Linked DNA regions of Homo sapiens. The gene in region 2 interacts genetically with the main gene of each other region. Each region holds a gene or a part of one and is shown on either strand. Other genes may lie near its edges.

What was found.
Region 1: changes in MZT1 (region 2) and REXO2 together harm fitness less than expected from each alone (positive genetic interaction), as found in Homo sapiens cells (one large-scale study listed by BioGRID).
Region 3: changes in MZT1 (region 2) and ERH together harm fitness less than expected from each alone (positive genetic interaction), as found in Homo sapiens cells (one large-scale study listed by BioGRID).
Region 4: changes in MZT1 (region 2) and SMC5 together harm fitness less than expected from each alone (positive genetic interaction), as found in Homo sapiens cells (one large-scale study listed by BioGRID).
Region 5: changes in MZT1 (region 2) and UBA2 together harm fitness less than expected from each alone (positive genetic interaction), as found in Homo sapiens cells (one large-scale study listed by BioGRID).
Region 6: changes in MZT1 (region 2) and GTF2E1 together harm fitness less than expected from each alone (positive genetic interaction), as found in Homo sapiens cells (one large-scale study listed by BioGRID).
Region 7: changes in MZT1 (region 2) and WDR7 together harm fitness less than expected from each alone (positive genetic interaction), as found in Homo sapiens cells (one large-scale study listed by BioGRID).

What each region holds. Positions count from the first base shown.
Region 1 is NC_000011.10:114,445,967-114,449,466, reverse strand, and holds part of REXO2 (oligoribonuclease, mitochondrial precursor), read right to left. Parts: intron 3,489-3,500; coding exon 3,380-3,488; intron 1,642-3,379; coding exon 1,588-1,641; intron 1-1,587. UniProt on the Homo sapiens protein: 3'-to-5'exoribonuclease that preferentially degrades DNA and RNA oligonucleotides composed of only two nucleotides. Binds and degrades longer oligonucleotides with a lower affinity.
Region 2 is NC_000013.11:72,707,867-72,710,629, reverse strand, and holds the end of MZT1 (mitotic-spindle organizing protein 1), read left to right. Parts: intron 1-284; coding exon 285-308; 3' UTR 309-2,263; downstream 2,264-2,763. UniProt on the Homo sapiens protein: Required for the recruitment and the assembly of the gamma-tubulin ring complex (gTuRC) at the centrosome.
Region 3 is NC_000014.9:69,381,300-69,384,799, reverse strand, and holds part of ERH (enhancer of rudimentary homolog), read left to right. Parts: intron 1-3,500. UniProt on the Homo sapiens protein: May have a role in the cell cycle.
Region 4 is NC_000009.12:70,265,478-70,268,977, forward strand, and holds part of SMC5 (structural maintenance of chromosomes protein 5), read left to right. Parts: intron 1-2,445; coding exon 2,446-2,498; intron 2,499-3,141; exon of another isoform or gene 3,142-3,500. UniProt on the Homo sapiens protein: Core component of the SMC5-SMC6 complex, a complex involved in repair of DNA double-strand breaks by homologous recombination.
Region 5 is NC_000019.10:34,441,881-34,445,380, forward strand, and holds part of UBA2 (SUMO-activating enzyme subunit 2), read left to right. Parts: intron 1-1,963; coding exon 1,964-2,031; intron 2,032-3,119; coding exon 3,120-3,241; intron 3,242-3,500. UniProt on the Homo sapiens protein: The heterodimer acts as an E1 ligase for SUMO1, SUMO2, SUMO3, and probably SUMO4. It mediates ATP-dependent activation of SUMO proteins followed by formation of a thioester bond between a SUMO protein and a conserved active site cysteine residue on UBA2/SAE2.
Region 6 is NC_000003.12:120,773,744-120,777,243, reverse strand, and holds part of GTF2E1 (general transcription factor IIE subunit 1), read right to left. Parts: intron 822-3,500; coding exon 580-821; intron 1-579.
Region 7 is NC_000018.10:56,654,359-56,657,858, reverse strand, and holds part of WDR7 (WD repeat-containing protein 7), read right to left. Parts: intron 1-3,500.

The DNA.
Region 1 (3,500 bases), on a different chromosome or scaffold from region 2:
AGGAAGCTGTCCTATATTTCTAATTTATTAATTTTCTAAAATTAATAAATTTTAGTATTTCTAAAACTTAATCGACCACATTTGTAGAATACTTATAAACAGTTCATGGAACACAGTTTGAGAAACATTGCCCAATACTTGATGATGTCCCTCAACAAAACAGACTGACACACTTGAACATAAGTCATGACTCAGTCATCATAATAAACATCAATTATCAAACAGTACCTAACCATACCAGAGGATCTACCTCCTCTCTCATGGTGATTTGTGCTATAATCAGTGGCAGCCTGCCTCCATCTAAGAGCCTTTCTTTTCTTCCAATATGTTGTTTCTCATCTGTTGTATTCTGAGAAATCAGGTAACCAAGATTATTAGAACAGTGTGCAAGTAAATCAATAAACTCTGAATCATGGGCCAAGGGCCACTTCTAGAGAATTCCCTGCACAAATTTTAGTGCAAGAGTTTTATGACAATTATTTGTGTGGCTAAGGCAACCATCTGCTTTCTTTCCAGGACTTGGATATATGTCAGAGCCGAAGCTGCCAAAATTATAGCCTCTGGCTAAATAAAGGCACACAATATCTTATCCACAAAACTGAAATCCAAAACACACCTGAAAACCCACAGTACTTACAGAACCTATTATGTAGCAAAACCTGAGCAATCTTAATGTGAGGCTATTGACAGTCATCATTACTTATGCCATTTGGTGTGAATATACACGTTTCACTGCAGAATACCTATGTGTTTTATTATGGGCTGCTTCTCAAACCTTGTTAGGGATGCTACAAGATAATAAACAATACAGATGTAGTAACACCTTTCTAAAATCTGAAAAATTCTGAAATCAAAACATACCCCAGTTGTGTCAGATAAGGTAGTCTAGGCCTGTATGCCTGTGCTACAGTCTACATACACTCAATAAAATAATGTAAGAATGCCAGACTCTTTAGGGATTGGTCTTTCTCTATTTGCCTATAACTGTGCAAGGTACATCATAGGGGTTCAGTAAATGGTTTAATAAATGCTACCCTTAGAAGCCAGCTGCTAAACCTCCCATCAGGTTTCATGTTTCTCCTGAAAGACTACAAAATCAAAAAGAAAAGAACCAGTACAGGACACATGAATATACAAGATCTTTAAATTCCTTGTCTACTTGTACCTAAGGCTACAGACATAAGAGAAACAATCAGAAAAACTATAACAAGTGTCAAAGTAGGCAACTGTATTATAGAATTGCACACAAAAAGTGTTCTAATTTCAAAAGGCTGCAAGTCCATATCTTCTGTGGGAAGAAAGTTAACACGGTTCATTACTAGAAAGATTACAGATTGTTTCATCATTCCTATAAACCAAGCTATCTAAGAGTTTTGAAACAGCAATAAAGGCTATATAACCCTCTCAGAATGGAACACTGGAATCCTGACCAGAATTCCTAACAGTAAAAGAATGTTATGTTTATGCTAGTTGAACTTTATCTTTTCCCCGAGAAAAAAGAGTTAAGGGACATTATTTCAAGCAGTCAGGAATTTGGGAGTTAAGTGTGTGTCAGACTGGAAAACGCTTGGTAGAACTCAAACTTACCTATGAGAAGCAGCCTTCTTTGGTGCAAATTCATATTCTTCTGGATACCAGCGTCTATACACAGCAGAAATGGAACTCTCAAAGGAAGCTGTCTCAAATATACTGAACAATTACCTCCTTCAAGTAATCCATTAACATTGAAAATGGCATTTGAGTCATGATTCTCAAGTTGCTTCTTTGCCGGGGCCTCTATCTTCTACCCTCTCCTCTCTTTCTTCTATATATTTTCTATGAGCAAGCTCATCAGTGTGTAAGATTGCTAAATCTGGAAATCCAGCCCAGCCCTCCCTAGAGTTTCTGTCATGGATATGCAACTGCCCACTAGATATCTCCATCTAAAAATCTACCAGACACTTCTAATTCAACATACATCAAAACACACCCACCATTGTCAACACCTCCCCTGCCCCATCCACCATATCTACTCTTCTTCTTCTCCTTTTTATTTGAACACTGCCATCATCCACCAAAGCTGCTCAAACTACAAACATCAGAATAACATTATACCTCTTCCTTTTCACACCACCTCATTCGAACACTGAGTGTCTGTCAACTGACCCTCTCACATTTTTATCATACAAGCCCCTCATTTCCATGCCCTGCCCTTTCTCCAGTTCATTCTTCTCCCCAAGATGGCAGAAAAGCCTCCTTTCAGGCCGGGCGCGGTGGCTCACGCCTGTAATCCCAGCACTTTGGGAGGCCGAGGCAGGCGGATCACGAGGTCAGGAGATCGAGACCACGGTGAAACCCCGTCTCTACTAAAAATACAAAAAATTAGCCGGGCGCAGTGGCGGGCGCCTGTAGTCCCAGCTACTCGGGAGGCTGAGGCAGGAGAATGGCGTGAATCCGGAAGGCGGAGCTTGCAGTGAGCGGAGATCGCGCCACAGCACTCCCGCCTGGGCGACAGAACGAGACTCCGTCTCAAAAAAAAAAAAAAAAAAAAAAAGCCTCCTTTCTATCTTTCTACCACTTTTCTTGCCACCTTCGAATCAGAACGATCGTTATCACTCACTCTTCTACCTACACTTTCTCAAAGGAACCCCATTCCTTGCAAGATCATAGTGAACTTCACTGGCATGGTGTGCAAGCTCTTGAGGCCCTAGAACCACCTCCCACCTTCTCCAACCTCATGCTTTGCACTCCAGCATTAATGAATGCTTTGGGATTCATTTAACACATTTTGCCTTAGCTTCCTGCTCCCTCACATTCTTATACTTCTGTCTGCTCTCTCTGAATGCTCTCTCCTCAATAAAATGCCTGCAAGACTTCCACTCTTCTTCACATCTCAATTTCAAAGCTATTTCCTTGCTATGTAAAGGTTTCTCTGACTCCCCATTCCTCTTGCTCCAGCACAGTTAGATGCTGCTTCCCTTGTGACCTCACTAGTCCATACGCACATTTTCACTATAGGAGTCATCATAGAGTATATTTTCAGGGTGCGTTTTTTTACACATATGTCGATCCACTATTTTCTAAAGTACTTAAGAGCTTTTCATCTATATGTTCCCAGTCACAAGACTTCCACATAATATTAGTTAATCCAGAAAATGTATTGAGCACTTATTTTGTGCCAGGCATTGGCTTATTTACTGGGAACATGTCTGACGTTGTTGCTCCCAATTCTCACCAGTCCAGGGTAAGTTAAGGTCCTATACAAGCAAGAATGGGATGAGGAAGATATGAACCCACTTGGTAGCCTTAGTTCTACAGCTCTATCCAATTACTTTCCACAAATTCTCAATTAAAACATGCTAAATGAGGTAATTTAATGGATCCTAAATATAGCCCTTACCTGCACAGTTCTTTAACAGTGCTCACATCAATTATTCTATAATGAAGATGTTTCATGAACTGGGGCATGTATTTGTCAAGAAACTTCTTATCTTCATGAACTGAATTTCCTAGAAAGACAC
Region 2 (2,763 bases):
ATAGGTTAATGTTTCAAGTAGCAGTATGTTTTTTGTGCTCTTAACTATTATTTTAGGTGATATAACTATTTTCCACTGTTAGCCTGTGGACTGTTAACTGTACATTCAAAAGGTAGTCCTGATGTATAGCAAAACATGAAAAGCACTGCATTACTGTGATAAAAGTGGTTCTGTTTTATGGGGAATAGTTGTTTGTTAATGACAGTGCAGTATTGACAAATTTATCTTCATGATGCCTCTTTTTCCATGGTTTTATTGTAATGAATCTTACTTTCTTGTTCTAGGCTGCTGAAAATATGACAAGCTGACTTTCTGGAGAAATTCTGATGAGATATGTCAAGCTCTGCAAGAGGGTTTGAAGATTGCATTGTAGTTGAGAATGTACAATGAAATTACTGCATGCAGCAGTGTAGAAAAATTTTACTTTTTAAAAGAATTATAAAACCATAGCTTTATAAATCAGTGGAAAGTGGCTTACAGAGAGAACTATCAGATGTGTTTACATCACATCTTATTCACTTTTTTTAACAGCTCTAATGCTTTGGCATTGCTATGTTCATATTTATGTATTCCTTATTTATAGCTCTGATAGCTTTAATTTTCTAAGCAGTCTGTCTATCAGATGTGCACATCTGCTGTGCCAGGTTGAAGTATAGTGGAACCCATCAGTAGTAATGTGTAGTAGTTATGACTTGTTGACATTTCCATTATAAACTTTAATTTTGAATTGTTTATGCATTATAACTGTGGATTTATATTGTATTGGGCTGAAAGTTGACAGGATTTCAGCCACCACTTGTGAATTTTTATTTAGATTCATTATGTATATCAGAATCTTGTTTTTTGAAATAAGAGCATGGAAAACATTTCTTGTAATCTACTCTTGAACAAAGAATATTTAGTTTTTCAAACAGTTTGTTGGGCAGCTAATAGTGTGAACCAGGTCATTTTTGTATTGAGTAAAAAAATCAAACTTTGAGAAACTTGGATTTTAAAAGTAATGACAATGCTTAGGTTAGTATTATTTGTAATTTGAATCATTTACATCTAATGAGAATGTTAGTTGAGAATGTTTTCTTAAAGTTTTATATCCTATAAATAACGGAATAAAAAAATTTGTAAAATGAAACAACAAACATGCAAAATTCCTATTTACTTTTATTACATAAAAGTAATTTTAGTGCTTACCTAATAAATCTTGAATGGTTATTTAATAAATTATTAGATGGGTGATGTGTTTCAAAAGATACTTGCTATTTTTTGAAGAAATAAGGATTTCCAGTCATTAAACAAAACTAAACAATCTTATTAGATGGGTGATGTGTTTCAAAGGATACTTGCTATTTTTTGAAGAAATAAGGATTTCCAGTCATTAAACAAAACTAAACAATCAAATGTTCTATATTAGGAATCTCAAGTATGGCTTTTTTTAAAAAACCTTTTTAACATCTTGATGTCAAGGATTATAAGTATGGCTTTTCAGAATTGTTTTGTTTGTCATTATTCTTGCCTTTAAAATTTTAACTCATCAAAGTGAAGATTAGAAATAAATTTTAGAAAATGTAGAATAGTATTGATTCTGTTCCTGTAATAGAATCTCAGTGGAGTTTTTTTGCAAAACTAATATGGATTTCATCTGATTTTATTATTTCTTAAATTTTAGATTTTATTGAGTACCATTTATATGATTGTACAAGCATTCACTCTTTACTAGCATTTTTTGTTTTTCAGACAAGCTGAAGTGGTTTTATTAAGATTTGGTAATATTTAAATAGCAACCTTCTCTGCCTTTTTTTTTTTTTAATATAGAATTTTGACCATTTTGACTTTTTAAATGCCTGGCATCTTTACCAACCAAGTAAACTGGAAGATCTGTTACTGGTAGAACAGGTTGAGGAGACAGTAGGAATTTGTAAAAAGTCATTTGATTTATAATCAACACTACAAATACTATGTGTTATTTATAAAATCATAAAGAACACTTTTGTCAGACTCCAAAATTTGTATATACTTCCAGGCCATAAGAGTTGATAGTATTATTTATGACTTTGTAGATTAAGTTATTTATGTATGAAACAAAGCAGGAAAATATATTGAGAAGGGATCGTGTTTACAGAGGACTTCTTTAAAGTGTCACATTTTTAAAATGTAAACATATTTTTAATGCATACTTAAGTAATATTTAAGAAACTAAACAAAATAATGATACAATTGCAGTGTTGTGCTTGTTGTCAATGACAAAAATAAAACCATTTTGGTGGTATTGGCCTGTACTTTTGTTTTAATATATGCTTTTGTTAATTCAACTTGTGTTTCTATAGGACAAAAGATACAGAACATAAAATTTACCATTTTAACCTTTTTTTTTTTTTTTTTTTGAGATGGAGTCTCACTCTGTCACCCAGGCTGGAGTGCATTGGCATGATCTTGGCTCAATGCAGCCTCCGCCTCCTGGGTTCAAATGATTCTCCTGCCTCAGCCTCCCGAGTAGCTGGGATTACAGGCACCTGCCACCATACCTGGCTAATTTTTTGTATTTTTAGTAGAGGCGGGGCTTCACCATGTTGGCCAGGCTGGTCTCAAACTCCTGACCTCAGATGATCTGCCTGCCTCAACCTCCCAAAGTGCTGGGATTATAGGCATGAGCTACAATGCCCTGCCCTTTTTAACCATTTTTAAGTTTCATAGTTCAGTGACATTCAGAATATTCTTATTGTATTGTAACTATCACTATTGTCCATCTCTTGAACTTTCTTATCCCAA
Region 3 (3,500 bases), on a different chromosome or scaffold from region 2:
AGTTGCTTTGTGTTTGTTCACTGCTGCATCTCTGGTACATAATTAGTGCTGAGTAAATATTGGTTATATAAATGCACGTCACTTGTGTTGTTATTTGAGGAATAGCTTTCTAAAATTATTGATAATTTTCTATTTCCCTTATTTATATTACAGAGCTATATTCTGCATTGATTAAAAATTAATGGTTGTCTTTATGGTTTTATAAAAGAACCTTACTGAAACATTCAGGATGTAATCCTGACGCTTTTGGGATGTCATACTTACTCCCAGTAAGTGGGAAGTAAACTTGAAGCAAAGGATCATGTTTTACTTGTCTTGGGAGGCTGTGGTTAAGAGCTAGCTGGAGTGGCAGAATTAGACATAGCTGGGTTTGAATCCTGGGTCTACCATTTGCTAGCTCCCTTTGACAAGGCAGCTTTGTATTGCTAAACTTTAGTTTGCTAATTTGTAAAATTCAGACAAATCTAGTTCATAAGACTCCTTGTGAGGATCAAGTGCTTGCTGAGCACAGCATTATTAGATATGCAGCAACTCCCTTTTCAACTAGATTGAAGAAGTCAGGATAGAGTTTTATTTTTAATTACAAGCATGTTCTTAAATTTGCCAGGAGTAGAATGATATGAATTTTAATGTCTACGTGTGAGATAAATTATAAATTTCAAGGGAGATTTAAAAGGTGTTGAGGTTTTTTCAACAATATGAAAATTGAGCAGAGTAAAACAGTTACAAGTGACATGTTAATGATATACAAGTATGTCATTAATGACATAACATAACTTTTCTAACTTTGTACTAGACTTTATAAAAAAAAAATTTTAGAGACAGGGTCTTGCTATATTACCCAGGCTGGTCTCAAACTCCTGGGCTCAAGTGATCCTCCTTCCTCAGCCTCCCCAAGGAGTGATATTACAGGCATGAGCAACTGTGCCCGGCTGCATTAGACTTTAAAATGTAAACTAGAAACCATATCTAGCATACTAAACTGATTTTTAATACAATATTTGCTATATTAAAGCAACATAGGGGGAAAGCTTTAATTATTACCTAGATAATTCTTCCCACCTACAGTATTTCCAGAAATATAGAAGAGAGGTTAATGATAATTTATGGTTTTTTAGTAGTTTCAGAGTGTTAAAAACCGTAAATTATCATAGCTTGAAAACCTGTAACTATTTGTTTGTTTCTAATGTTGAAAATTTTTTGGCCTCTGAAAAACTTTCAGAATCAAATTTAGGATTTAAAACTATTTTCCCCAGGTGACTTTGGTTATGTCCTTTTTGTTCTTTGAATATTCAGGAGAAATAAGGTATTGTTTCCAAAGAGGTAACCCACTGCCACAGCACATCCTGTGATTTGGGCCGTTACTCCTCAGACCAGAGACTGGGTCCGTTTTTGGTTTGTAGATGGTTGTGTGCTCATAGTTTCTATTAAATTTACATGGCAGTGACCTAGGACTTTTTTAAATTAATTCTTTTTAAACAGCGTAGGTGGAAATGGAATAAATAAGATTCTACTTTGTAACATGACTAAACCCAGAGCAAACTGACCATGCATTAATAATAAAATGTAGGCATGAAAATTTGTATTTCGTATACTTAAAGTCAGAGTCAGATTTTTCCAGTTTTCTGATCTGTATGTTTTTTAAATAAGCTTTTTGTAAGATGAAAATAATGCCCTTTTGATTATGCAGTATTTTCTTGTTTGCTTAGAGACATAAAGAACATTTAAACTGTCAGTTATTATAATGACAAGAGGTATTCCTGATCAGTAAGAGAAGTTATCACTGAAGACATTTCTGATTTCACTGCCCAGACCCACAGCTTCTGTTCTTATATAAACCTACATTCATTGACCATAACAATAGGTTAAAAGATTCATCTGTGCCAATGACTAGGCATTTTATTAAAGTATTTAACATTTAATTGTCTCATTTTCAAGTGCCAGTTAACAGCCATCGACACACAGCTTTCCATAAAGAAGGCATTATTGCTTTTTTTTTTTTTTTCTTTTGGAGATAGAGTCTTGCACTGTCGCCAGGGTTCAAGCGATTCTCCTGCCTCAGCCTCCCGAGTAGCTGGGACTACAGGTGCGCGCCACCACGCCCAGCTAATTTTTGTATTTTTTTTTTTTGGTGGAGACGGGGTTTCACAATGTTGGTCAGGATGGTCTTGATCTCTTGACATTGTGGCCCGCCTGCCTCAGCCTCCCAAAGTGCTGGGATTACAGGCATGAGCCACTGGCACCTGGCCTACTATTTGATGAGTTGGAAAATTGCATGCAAGTTGATGGATTCCTTAATGTTCACAAACCAGAGTGATTTTTGTTGGGGGGAATGGTATAAACAAAGCCTGTCCCACCCAGATATGATAATTGTGAGAAATTTTGTTCCTTTTTAAGTTATTTTCCAGTGTTAATATAAATGTTATAGTCTCTTCTGCTACATTTTGCAGTAGACTAGCTTAGAGCTTATTTAATTAGGAAGCATGGACAAAGAGTTTTCAGAAAAAATTAAATTTTAGAATTTTTAAATTTGGTTAAGCATTTTTAAAAATGGGAATCTTGTACATTTTTAATAAACCAGATTGTGACCTTACTGTTCAGAGGAAGAATATGATGTTAATTGTATAAAGCATTCCTACTTTGGAATTTATTTCCCTTGCCAAAAATTGTAGTTTAGGTTTCTAACTTAGTGATTAACAGTGAGGACTCTGGAGTCAGGAGTATTTAAAATCTATCTCCAGTCCAGCATTACCTAGCTAATAACTTGCTTCACTTTTTAAAGCCTTGGTTTCTCATTTATGAAAAAGGAGGCCAGGTGCGGTGGCTCACGCCTGTAATCCCAGCACTTTGGGCGGCCGAGGCGGCTGGATCACTTGAGGGTCAGGAGTTCAAGACCAACCTGGCCAACATAGTGAAACCTGGTCTCTACTAAAAATACAAAACATTAGCTGGACGTGGTGGCACACACCTATAGTCTTACCTACTCAGGAGGCTGAGGCAGGAGAATCATGTGAACCCAGGTGGCAGAGGTTGCAGTGAGCCAAGATGGCACCACTGCACTCCAGACTGAGTTACAGAGTGAGATTCTGTCTCAAAAAAAAGCAGGGGTCGGTGGTGGGGGTGGTGGGAAGTGAGGATAATTGTACCTACTCACAGGGTTGTAAAAATGAGTTAATTCAGATAAGAATTTAAAGCGACACCCAGTACTCTGTGACATCTTACTAGATACTACTCACAGTCCCATTGGAGTTTTACTGCTAATGCTAGTCTGTGTACTCCTTTTCGTTCTGATTAGAGATATTTTGGAGCTTACTGTATCTTCTGATAATTCTTCTCCATAGGCCTCTAGCATTATTTATTTTAAAAAGCAAATCCTAAAATATAGGTTTAAGATTTCCTTAATACTTTACAGGGGGAAGGAAATTAGCAAGAAATCTTTGTTGCCAGTACATGTTTTTTAAAGGTTTTTTAGTTAATTCAGAATAAACATTGCAAATCTA
Region 4 (3,500 bases), on a different chromosome or scaffold from region 2:
AAAAATCACAAAATAAGATGGTAGAAATATGTGCAGATATAATCACAATGATTATAAATGATCTAAACTCTAAACTCTCATTAAATTATAAAGTCTGTTAGAATGGAGAAATGAAACAATGTTTAGTTCTCTTTTGTTTTTAATAAGCATATCTAAAATAAAGTGCTACAGAAAAGTTGAGAGTGAAAGGATGAAAAAAAATACATGCCAGGCAAATATGCAAAAGAAAGTAGATGTAGCTGCATTAATACTAGGAAAAACAGACTTTAGAGCAAAAAGTATTTTATAGATAATAGTGGTCATTAAACACTGACGAAAGTTTTAATTCACTGGAAGATAATTCGATTCCCAACTCAAATTCACATTATAATCTAGCTCCAAAATATATAGGCAAAATCTGCAGAATGCTAACAAGCAGTTAACATATCCATAATCATACTGGGAGAGCTATCAATAATAGTAGACCAGTCAGATAAAAAAATTAGACTACAAAAGATTTGAACAATGAAGTTAAGCTTGAACTAATGGACATATTATAAAAAGTGCACTCAACAACTGGAGAGTATGCATTCTTTTCAAGCACAAGTTAACATTTCTAAAAGTTAATTGTATACTGAGTCATAAAGCAAGTATCAAAAAATTTCAAAAAATGGACACCACGTAGACCATATCCTATTTCTATTAAGATAGAAATAATAAAAAAAAAATTAAAAGTTAATGGATGGTTACAAAATGGAAGCAAATTCCCCTTAAGATTATAAATTATTTAAAATGTGTGTGTGTGTGTTTAGTGCTATATGGAAGACATTTATCAGGTAGAAGATACTTTTCTCTGTTAATAACTAGCCTTGTGACCTTGAGCAATTATCTGGACTTCAGTTTTTCTTCATTTCAAAGATGAGAGAGTTGGAACAGATAGCATCCAAGGACCAACTCAGATTTTTATGAATATTGATATATAGTTTTTTAATTGTCAGATCATTTAATCCCTATCTCTTTGTAATCGTCTGTTGGATTGTACTCCAGGGGCTGTACAGTAGGACTGAATTGGCTATAACAATTTTTACTAACTTTCTCATGTTGATTTTTGTCATGAAAACACATCTCATCCTTGAGTGATAGGATTTTTAAGGGAGGCTGTGGAGTGCAGTGTTTCCTAGATGACAGATTGCAGCCCTTTGGGTACACAGATGTATTTATGGGATGCCCAAGTTCTCAGCAAGAATATTTAATGTATTTTTGTTTAAATGCTAATATAAAAATTTAACAAAAACATACTCTACACCATCTGTATGGATACTTTATAATAAGAACTGCCTCCTGATTTTTGTTTCCTCCTCATTGGTACCAAGTCTTTTAATTCTTGCAAGCTAATGAGCAGATGTCATTCCTACATGGATGTCCTTGGTTTTCCTGTGAGGAAACAGAGAGGTTAAGTAACTGTCCAATGTTTAACAACTTGTATGTGGTGGAGTTGAGATTTGAACCTAGATAGTAGATGTTAAAACCTGTACTTTTAAGCATTAGGCTGTACTTGGTGGTTACAAGATAAGGCTTTTTTTTTTTTTTTTCTCCCATCTTTCTGGGACTCAGCTTTATTGTCTATAAAATGAATGTATACTTCAAGGTTGCTTATGAGTATTAAATGAGAAAAATACATGTTTAGTGCTTAGCACAACAGTATATAGTAAATGCTTGATAAATGTTAGCTGTTGTCATCACTGTCATTATCACTATTAAAAAGATTACTATTTGTGAGGTATATTTTCTACCTTTTTTAATATTTATCACTTATTTATAGCCTGATTTAAGATCCAGTCTGATTTTTTTAGGCTCAGACTTTGTTTTCGGACTTAGACTCATAAGCATATAGAAACTAGCACAGATATGTCTGCTTTATCATGTAAATTTCAATTATATTGCTCCTTTTAGAACGATGCTTGGTGGCAATTATATCATTAACAGGATAGGTAATATTAGCGTGGTTGTTAATATTTAACCTGCGCGACTGTAGGAAGTCTTCAATGGTAATAAGAAGCTTTGAGTGCTTAGTGGTTATACTATAGGACCTGTTTTCCCACAGGCATTTTCTCTTCTGTCTGGGTGTTTAATATAGTGGACAAGTACACAGGCTCTGGAGCCAAGATTTCCTGGGTTCAGATCGTTTTTCTGGCACTTACTGGCTTTGTCACGAGGTTGGTAAGAGGCTATGGAGTGCATAGGAGTTCGATAAATCTTACCTAATATTATTATTGTTGTTATTTGTGGGAGGGAACAATGGAGGAACCCAGATCTGGGAGAGATACCTTAGAAAGTGACAGGAGCGAACATACAAGTGGTACCTGAAAAAAATCTTGATTTGACAAATAATAATGACTGCTAAATCTCTGATTGTTAACCTGGGAATGTCACTACACAGCTCACTTTTTCTTTTTTATGTCTTAGGTTGGGTTTTTTGTGAAGAGAGGATGTTCTAGAGGCATGGTTGAAATTGAATTGTAAGTGTTAAAAGTGCTAAAACTCCTTTTTCCTATAAAATTCTTAGTTTATATTCATGTTTTCCTGATGATTAGAAAAGAGTATTAATATAGTATTATGGCATAAATATTGGAAATAATATTTAAAGAATACTTAATCCAGATAAGTAAGGGGTTTAAAAAATATATTTTAAAAACTTAAATTGTAGGCTAGCCATGGTGGCTCATGCCTGTAATCTGAGCACTTTGGGGAGGCCGAGGTGGGCAGATCACCTGAGATCAGGAGTTGGAGACCAGCCTGACCAACATGAGGAAGCCCCGTCTCTACTAAAAATAGAAAAATTATCCAGGCATGGTGGCACATGCCTGTAATCCCAGCTACTGGGGAGTCTGAGGCAGGAGAATTGCTGGAACCTGGGAGGCAAAGGTTGCAGTGAGCCGAGATGGCGCCACTGCACTCCAGCCTGGGAGACAGAGCTAGACTCTGCCCATGCCCCCTGCCCCCCCCAAAAAAAAAACTTGTGAGAATTTTATTTTAAAAAATTATCAAGGAAATGATAAGTTTATAGCAGGTAATGAAATAGAACTATACTACTATTAAGTAGTCATGATGAAGTTGCAATATTTTTCACAAATTTAAAGTATCTGGGTTTTTTTTTTTTTGCTGATCTTGAAAGTAATACTTGCTTGTCTTTAAAAAACGCAAACAATGTAGAAGTGTATAATGTTGAAAATAAAAGCCTTCTTGCCATCATTCCTAATTCTATAAATAACTACTGCTAATAGTTTGATGAATCTCATGTATGACAAGGACTTGGTACTTCTGTCACCATTTTTTATTTTCTCCCTTATGACACCAATAATTCATCATAGTATTCTTTTCCCTTGAGCTTGGATATTCTCAATTGGCCATTCTTGGCAGCTATTTTTGATAGACTAGAGTTGATGTTTATGATGAAACCAGTTGACCATCCTTGGTATATATAATTTTAATCCTTTACACATAAATATGCACATTATTTA
Region 5 (3,500 bases), on a different chromosome or scaffold from region 2:
ACTGCACTCCAACCTGGGGGACAGAGCGAGACTGTGTCTCAGAAAAAGACAAAAAAAAAAAAAAGATAATGTGGCCAGGTGCAGTGACACACACCTGTAATCCCGGCTCTTTAGGAGGCCAAGGCAGGAGGATTGCTTGAGCCCAGCAGTTTGAGAGCAGTGTGGGCAACATAGTGAAACCCCATCACTACAAAAAATTTAAAAATTAGCAAGGCATGGTGGCACATGCCTGTGGTCCCAGCTACTTGGGAGGCTGAGGTGAGAGGATCACTTGAGCCTAGGAGGTCGAGGCTGCAGTGAGCTGTGATCACACCACTGCACACTAGCCTTGGGGACAGTAAGACCCTGTCACACACACAAAAAAGATAATCTGGCAAAATTAATATGAGCAGCATTTTTCACTCGAAGGGAAACCTAAATAAGCAATAAGCAAGTTATGTTTTAATCATAAGACTTACTTGGAAAATTAAGTATAAGACCATAGTAAGCTACAGATGCTTCTCAGATACTTCCCGATAAACTCATCATAAATAAAAAATACCATTAAGTAAAAAATGATGCTTTTTTTGTTGTTGTTTTTTTGAGATGGAGTTTCGCTCTTGTTGCCCAGGCTGGAGTGCAGTGCAACTGCAATCTCTGCCTCCTGGGTTCAAGCGATTCTCCTGCTCAGCCTCTCGAGTGGCTGGGATTACAGGCGTCTGCCACCACGCCCAGCTAATATTTGTATTTTAGTAGATACAGGGTTTCACCTTGTTGGCCAGGCTGGTCTCAAACTCCTGACTTCGGTTGATCCACCCGCCTCGGCCTCCCAAAGTGTTGGGATTACACATGTGAGCCACCACGCCCAGCCAAAAATGCATTTTAATATAACCTCAATAAACCTGTTGTAAAGGTGAAAAATCATTGGTGGACCATTTTAAATTAGCGGCTGTCTACTATTTTGCACTCACTAGTTGGCAAAGCGTTAATTTTAGGAAGTGTTAACATGCCATTGTTGGGAGTGACTATCAGAGCTTTGAAATTATAGTTGGGTGGGGGGTTGTACAAAGGATTTCTGTAAGATAACTTTCATTAATCATATACTTGAGGAAATACTGGAAACTTTTATATCCATGAGTTATTAAACAGTTTTTAGGATAACTTTATTAATAAAAGAGAATCTCAGCTTAATACTTTCAAATTGTTTGTTAACACTCTGTTCAGCAGTAAAGAGCCATTCTACCATGAAAAAAAGTTAATCTTGTTCATTGCTGAATTTCTATCCCCTAGATGGGGACTCTGCACCTGAGGTATATAATAATGTTTGTTGAACAGGTAGCTGCAGGTGTAAACACAAACATTATTCTGGTGTTAGAATGTTATCCAGGTTGTAAGTGAAAACCACTCACCTGTTTCTTGAGCAGAGGTTTTAACATTGAAATGTGCAGAGCCTCGCTGATAGGAATGGATGTAGGTCTGCTAAAATTTAACCTTGCTTACATTGCTGTTGAAATTGGGATGCAAGCTGTCCAAGCACATTGTGTTAAACTTTTAAGTTTATAGTCATTTATCCGTTATTCACTTTTTTTTTTTTTTTTTTGAGACGGAGTCTTGCTCTGTTGCCCAGGCCGGAGTGCAGTTGTGCAGTCTCGGCTCACTGCAACCTCCATCTCCTGGGTTCAAGCGATTCTCCTGCCTCAGCTTCCCGAGTAGCTGGGATTACAGGCGTGCGCTACCACGCCTGGCTAATTTTTATATTTTTGGTAGAGACGAGGTTTCACCATGTTGGTCAGGCTGGTCTCGAACTCCTGACTTTGTGATCTGCCTGCCTCAGCCTCCCAAAATGTTGGGATTAAAGGTGTGAGCCACTGCGCCCAGCCAGTTGTTCAGTCTTTATCTCTGCTAAATATTTGGAATATTCTAAATTACATGTTTGTTTAGAATGCTTTGTTATACAGAAGTATTTACTATTCTTAAATTATAGCCAGTTGTTTGGGGAAGAAGATGCTGATCAAGAAGTATCTCCTGACAGAGCTGACCCTGAAGCTGCCTGTGAGTAAATTATTTGGCATATGTTTTATCAGATACTATTATCTTTATTTTGTTGATTTAATTTTGGTAGCTTAAGGGAAAAAAATTGCTATATGTGCTAGGTAATGTGTGTTTAACATGTGTTTTTTTTTTGTTTTTTTTTTTTTTTTTTTTTTTTGTCTCAGAGGTGGAGTTTCTCTCTTATTGCCCAGGCTGGAGTACAATGGTATAATCTCGGCTCACTGCAACCTCCGCCTTCTGGGTTCAAATGATTCTCCTGCCTCAGGCTCCTGAGTAGCTGGGATTACAGGCACCTGCCACCGCGCCCAGCTAATTTTTGTATATTTAGTAGAGACAGGGTTTCACCATGTTAGCCAGGCTGGTCTCGAACTCTTGACCTGAGGTGATCCACCCGCCTTGGCCTCCCAAAGTGCTGGGACAGGCGTAAGCAACCGTGCCTATCCAAAACAATGTTTTACAAAAAAAATATGATTCCGTTTTACTGATGAGGAAATCAAGGTTAAGAGAAATTTCACAAGTCTAGTAAATAGAGCTGCGAGTTGTTCCTAGATCTCATGACTGGTCTGTGCTTTGAACTGTTATATGTGTAGCTTTCAGAAACTAAGTTACAACAGGCCAGGCAAGGTGGCTCACGCCCGTAGTCCCAGCATTTTGGGAGGCTGAAGCAGCTGGATTGCATGAGGTCAGGAGTTTGAGACCAGCCTGGCCAACATGGCAAAACCCTGTCTCTACAAAAAATATAAAAATTAGCCAGGCATGGTGGTGCATACCTGTAGTCCCAACTACTTGTGAGGTTGAGACGGGAAGATGGCTTGAGCCCAAGAGGTAGAAGCTACAGTGAGCCGAGATCTTAACACTGCACTCCAGCCTGGGCAACAGAGTGAGACTTTGTCTCCAAAAACAAGAAAGAAAGAAACTGGGATACAAAAAGATGCTGATGAATGTGTTATTTTCTTATTCCTTGAACTCAGAATGTGTTGCATTTGGGGATTTCCATGAGTGACTTTCTTTTTATTCCCAAAGGTGAGTGAAAAGAGTTCAGTTCTACATTTATTACGGTTGAAAATAAAATAATGATCGTTTTATAGGGGAACCAACGGAAGCCGAAGCCAGAGCTAGAGCATCTAATGAAGATGGTGACATTAAACGTATTTCTACTAAGGAATGGGCTAAATCAACTGGATATGATCCAGTTAAACTTTTTACCAAGGTTAGATTTACTTTTTTTATAATCATGGATAGATGTATTGTTGTGCATAGATGTATTGTTCTAGTTCTGCTTGTTTTAAAATAGTCCATAAAATTGAATTAAGCTTCTATGTATATGCCTTGTGATGTCCTAATAAAATGATTGATGCAGTCAGGATATGCAAGTTTTAAAATGTTACCATCTACACTAAATCTATCAGTATAACATCTAAATAGGAGGTAAAATGAGAGGTGGCTTGTATACCTTCTTGGTTGTCTTT
Region 6 (3,500 bases), on a different chromosome or scaffold from region 2:
CAGTTCTCTAACTTCCGAAGATTAGTATGCAATTCTTAACCCTTTATGCCTCAGAAATTTCCAAAATCCTCTAGAACAAAGTTCTGCTAACCGTCTTGGACTGTGAGAATGCTCAATCCTTTATTCATGTGGTCTCTTTGTATCTATTTCAGGTAGCATACACTCCTTGGTATTTATGAAGAGAAAACATAAAGTTTGGGGTAGCGTATAGTTTTGGCTCCCAATTCAGAAAAATTAAATGCATATAAGTCAGGGTAATATAAGATTAAAGGAAAGGTGAGTATGGCTACCTTGAAAACAACAGATAGCATTTTTCCAAGAAATTAAGATAAAAAGATGACAATTTTTCAAATCTAAAAATGAAAATTTAAAAGGCTATTTGTTATTTTCACTAAGTTGAAGGGCAATGGAAGTATACTAGTTGGTTTTTATCTTATTGTTCAATTTCTTACTTCCTAATATAATGCAATTAATTGTTCTGTAGAACAGATCCAGAATTGCCCAGGCAGTTTCCCACTAAGCCAAGTTCATGTTCTACAGAACCTAAGACACATCCATTTTACTGACTTCTACTCTTACCTTCTTTCATATCTTCAGAACCATATGCCCCTTGGACAGTGCTTTCTCTCAACCAAATAGGCCTCTCTTTGGCAGATTTCCCTTCCAGTGAGGCTCGATGAAGATCTTCTTGGTCATCCATGTTAATGACAACATTCTGAGTGTATAAGTCTTCATAGGAAGGACCTTTGGTGGCCCATGCTTCCCGGTGGTGCCCACCTGCTAGGCTAGCAGCTCCAGCAGTAGTTGCTGCATGGTCCTTGCTATATAAAAAGAATAGAGGAGTACAGGAAGAAGAAAAATTAATGTCTTGGTGTTGGAAAAGAAGGGCAGCTAGGGAGGCAATTACTGAAATACTACATGTAAATGCTACCTAGCAATCATGCACACATGCTTTAACAATTCCAAGAAAGTGCTTCTATACCTCAGGGTAAAAGTTGTATGCGTTAGAAAAACACATCATATTTATATTTAAGTTCCTCAAACATGGGATCCTCTGATGTATATAAATGACTGAGGTTTTATAGATTTAAGATGTTTCAATAAATCTATTAATACTTGGAGAAGGAGAAAGTGATATGGTGACATCATCTACTTAAAGCCACTAGTCTGACAAAAATCTCTCCCAGTATTTTGTTTAAAAAACAAAAACAAAACACATTGTATTTTTAAAAATGTTATCTCAGCTCAACCCAGAACAATTCAAAGTGGTTCTGTGTGCTTTTTCCTTTCTTTTGTGTGCTGATCATGGAAAAAGCTAGAAAACTATTCTACAAAGCCTGACCTCAACCAACGTTCTTCTCCCACCACTCATGCAGTAAGGTATAACCCTCTGCACAAACTAGCTGCTTTTCTATGTAGTTGTATGTTTCTATCTCCACATCTATGCTGATACTCTGTATCCATCTCCAACCACTGATTCTACTCTGCAGTAACAATGGTCTGTTTTTCTCAGTCTATTTTATTTTGCTTTTTACTTTTACCACCCACGATCTTCTTTGTCTGTTAGCCTGTTCCATGTCTGATCATTTCCTTATCTTCTAGTCACTTAAGTTCCCCCCAACCTCTGTGTTAGGCCAAGTTTTCAGTATTTCTGATGGTTCCCCATTTTATCTGCCTGTTTCACTCTCAATCTGTTCCAAATTCTTTCGAATATGCCTGATTCTCTGTCTGAGCTCATGCCTTTCTCTGCCTGCTACTGATGCTTTCCACTTCAACTTCTACGTATGCTTCTCCACCTCCCGCTCTGTCCAGCTATTTTTTATCCTGTAACCATCTTCATGTTTCTTGAACTGCCTGCTCACTCCAAACCTTTTGGGTGTTTCTTTCAGTGTCCATGACTGACCTGGTCTCACGTTTCTCCTTTATTTTTCGTCCGTTTTTCTCACTCTTTTCCATGGATCCTGAATTATCTCCTGTGTGGAGCCCCGACTCATTCTGAATCTAATAAATACTTCATTAGTCTTTCCTCCTAAGCCATTCACTATTTTGCCTTCACTTTTGTCTTACTTCATCTCTGCTTACTCCCTTACTCTTCACTTGTTCTGGGTCCACTTCTTATCTACTGGGGTTTTCTAACTCATACTTAGCTGAGGTCTGTGTCCGTGTATCTGATTAGCCCATCACATCTTTCCCTAAATTACACTGTGTTTCTGACCATCCTCTGGAGGTAAACTTGGGCTTAGCTCATCCCACCTATCCTGTCCTGCCTCTGGATATCTATAGGGCCATGCTACTTGTGCAACAAAAAAATAATGTTATCTCCAGTTGCCCAGTCCACACTGATCCAGTCATTTAATCCATGCCTTCCAGGTACTGCGTTTGCATACTTTTCATTATTCCACCTCTGTGCCCAGGGCTACTTTGTAAACCACTTTCTCCCACAGCCTTTTTCTTCCCGGTGCCTGTTCTACCTGTTCCATGTCTCAATCACTTCTTTTGCCTCCTCACTGCTCCTACTTTCTACCAGTTATTTGCTCTCCACTCTAAGTCTAGACCTATGAGGCATCTCTCTGTAAATATATCCAATCCATCTATTTTTTTTTTTTTTTTGCTATATTCTGAAGTCTTATGCTACAATTGCACATAACTGGTTTCTCTCTGCTATTTCTTTCTGCATTCATTGATGTTACTTTGTGTATCATTTCTTGTTCATCTCAATTTAACCATTAACTGTCCCTAGTCATTCTCTATCTTCTATCTGTTCTGTGTGGTCTTTTAAAGGCTATGTGGCTGCCTTCACTGTAATATGATGCTGCTTACTTTGTATAGGTTGGCTTTTCGAACTTTTCTCTTCTTCAGCATTCACTTTACTTTCTCTTTTCTCTTGGTCTGATCTGGTTTTTTATGTTTCTGTGCTTATTCTACATTCTGGCCTCTCCTCTCACACCCATTTGTCTCTCTGACTCCTTTCAATGCCTCTTCTATCCTCAGCCAACATCCCCATCTTGATGTGCTGAGCCTGCTCTATATATCTGCCACCCCAAAATGTTTCTCCCTGAGTTAGCTAAACCCACCTGGGAGAGACAGAATAGGCATATTTCTCTGATCTGGCCAACCACATCCTTATCTTTCCTTGATTCAGACTTAAATGACTCACTCACTCTGAGGTTACTGCTTCTCTTTATATATAATCCTGAACACAGAGTTTTTCTCTATTCTCTATCTTTAGCATTGACTACAAAGACTGTCTTATGAAGGTATGAGGAGTACTTTGAGAAAAACAAGAAAGCTAGAGAGAAAAGAACAGAATTAAAATAAATGTTAACACAAGAGTACTTTTAAAAAGTCTTTTGTTTTTAGTATTCTGTCATAGAAATTCAAGATGGGTTTTATTCTAGTTTGAGGCAGCAGACATTTGACCATAAGTCAAACAAATTTTAAAATTTGGAACAATTTTAATTGAAGATGACAAAAATGACAATTCATGTTTGAATCTTTTT
Region 7 (3,500 bases), on a different chromosome or scaffold from region 2:
ATGAATGTAATATATATGTTCCTTAATAGAAAGGAAGTAAAAATTTCCTTGGACTCACAAGGACTTTCTGAATGCAGTCATGATGTAGGATTTCTTCTTCCAACATAATTGTTTGTGTTCTTTTGTATTCAGCAAAGCAGCTTTAAGAATCAGATACAGACAAAGACAAACGAACCATATGGATGGAATTCAAATTGTAAGTTAACATTACTATCATAGTACCTGTCAGTGAGAACATGTCCTCTTATTGATGGCAGAATTTCACTGAGCTATCCATAGCTCTCAGCTGATTTTGCCTATGATCAATGGCATGCACATATGTAAGACTATTAATTCTTCAAAAAGTGCATGAATTAAATGGACAAAAATGAGAACAGAACCTACAAACCTCACTAACTCCATAATTTAATTGCCAGGCATGGTGGCTCACGCCTGTAATCCCAGCACTTCAGGAGGCCTAGGTGGGAGGATAACCTGAGGTCAGGAGTTTGAGACCAACCTGGTGAAACCCCATCTCTACTAAAAATACAAAAATTGGCCGGGTGTCCTGGCGGGCACCTGTAATCCCAGCTACTAGGGAGGCTGAGGCAGGAGAAACGCTTGAACTTGGGAGTTGGAGGTTGCAGTGAGCTGAGATCACACCACTGCACTCCAGCCTGGGCAACAGAGTGAGACTCCATCTAAAAAAAAAAAAAAAGTCCCAACAAATTAAAAAACTGTCACAGGGAGATGTAACAGATAAACCCAGGAATAAAGGCACTACATAGTTCCAGGCCTCACTCTACACGCACTAAAATTACTTCAAGATTTACACTATGAATTTTGATTTCTGTCTAGTAGAACACAAAAAGACAAAGGTAGATTATCAATATATGAAAATCAATAGCATTTTCTTGTATCAGCACTAATCTACTTAAAAAATAGTATACCATTCACAGTATTTTTATAAACTACAATATTTTACTCAAAGTCATAAGTGAAAGACCATTCCATGTTCTCAGATAAAATGTCCTAATATTATAAAGATATCAATTTTCCTCAAAATAAATCTGTAAGTCAAAGTTCTACTGGTATTGTTTTTAGAAACTCAAACTAACTCTAAAATACATAGGAAAGAATAAAAATACATAAATAGCTGAGCCAAACTTTGAAAATGGGCAAAGATGAGAGAAAGTGCTCTACCAGATATTTAACATCACTAGCTAATTTGGGAAATGCAAATTAAGACCACACTGAGATATCATCACACATCAGAACAGTTAAAAAAAAAAAAAATAGTGGCCGGGCGCAGTGGCTCACATCTATAATCCTAGCACTTTGGGAGGCTGAGGCGGGCAGATTGCCTGAGCTCAGGAGTTCGAGACCAGCTTGGGCAACATGGTAAAACCCCATCTCTACTAAAATGCAAAAAATTAACTAGGTGTGGTGGCATGCGCTTGTAGTCCCAGCTACTCGGGAGGCTGAGGCAGGAGAATTGCTTGAATCTGGGAGGCGGAGGTTGCACTGAGCCAAGATTGCGCCACTGCACTCCAGCCTGGGTGACAGAGCAAGACTCCATCTCCAAAAAAAAAAAAAAAAACAGTGACAGTATCAAATGCTAGTGGAAGACGATGCAAAGAAATGCAATCTCTCATACATTCCTGGTAGAAATGTAAAATGGTACAACCACTCCAGAAAACACTTTGGGAGTTACTTCAAAAACTAAACATACACTTACCATACCATCCAGCAACCATGTCCCTGGGCATTTATCCCCCAAAAAATGAAAATTTAAATCCATACGCACACACACACACAAAACTGTACAAGAATGTTCACAGCAGCTTTATCTGTAACAGCCAAAAATTAAAAACAGCCCAGATATGCAGGTGAATGGTTAAACTTGGATACATACGTACCATGGAATACTACTCAACAATTAAGAAGTACAAACTATTGATAAATGCAACAATTTGGATGAACCTCAAGAACTGTCTCATTCAACAATGTTGATGAATCTCAAGAACTGTCTCATTCAACAATTTGGATGAATCTCAATTTCAAAAGATTACATGCTATAGGATTCCATTTATATAGCACTCTGGTAATGACAAAATTATAGAGATAGAAACTGATTAAACTGATTAAGGGATGGTGAGGGTAAGGGAGGTGGATGAAACTAGAAAGAGGTAACATGAAGAAAATCTTTGTAGTGATAGAATAGTTCCATATCTTCTTCCTCTTTTTTTTTTTTTTTTTTTGAGACAGGGTCTTACTCTGTCCCAGGCTAGAGTGCAGTGGCATAATCACAGCTCACTGCAGCTTCAACCTTCCCAGGCTTAGGTGATCCTCCCACCTCAGCCCCCCAAGTAGCTGGGACTACAGGCATGCACAACCACACCAGACTAATTTTCGTATTTTTTGCCAGAGACGGGGTTTTGACATGTTGCTGGTCTCAAACTCCTGGGCTCAAGCAATCTGCCTACCTCAGCCTCCCAAAGTGCTGGGACTACGGGCATGGTCAACCACATCAGCCTAGCTCTGTATCTTGATTGCAGAGGTAGTTGCAGGAATCCACACAGGTGATAAAATGGCACAGAACTATACACAGGCATTGTACAAAATCAATTTATTGGTTTTGATACTGTACTACAGTGGTATAAATTGTAACTATTGAGGGAAGTTCCTTGGGTGAAGCTGCATAAAATGTAACCACTGGAGGAAACCAGACCTCTCTTTACTATTTGTGCAACTTCCTATGAACCTATAATTATATCAAAATAAAGTTAAAACAAAATAAATGGGAAGAGTTATTTATATAGGAGGAAAAAACATACTACTACAAAACCATAGAGTTAAAACAGTATAGTGTTAGAGCAAGAACAGACAAACCAAAGGAAAGGACTCAATATTCAGAGTATATATGAGCACTTAATACACAGTGTGACACCATATCTATGGGAAAAGGGAAGAAAGATGCCAGGAAAACTGGCACAGTACATGGAAAATAAACTGGATCACAAACTTGTGACACATAAAAAGTTAAACTCTGCATGTATTAAAGACCAATAAGTTTAAAAGAAAACTATGAATTAGCAGTACATAACATAGCAGAGTAACTTTGTGGCACAGCACTGGGGAAAGATTTCTTAAACAAAACCTCCAAAATACAACCATATAGCCAAAAGATTTTTTAATTTGATTATATCAAAATATAAGATTTCTGTTCAATGAAGAACATCATGAGAAAGATTACAGACAAATGACAGATTAGGAACAGATACACTTGTAATACTTAAATGATTAGTATCTATGGAATACAAGAAATGTCCGCAAATCAACAAGAAAGAACTGAAACCCCAAAATAAAAATGGGTGAAGGGATGAACAGGCAATTTCACAAACAAAAAATTAAAAAAGATAAAACACACATGAAGAAATACTCAGATTCGGCAGGGCACGCTGGCTCATGCCTGTAATCCCAGCACTTTGGGAGGCTGAGGCAGGCAGATCACAAGGTCA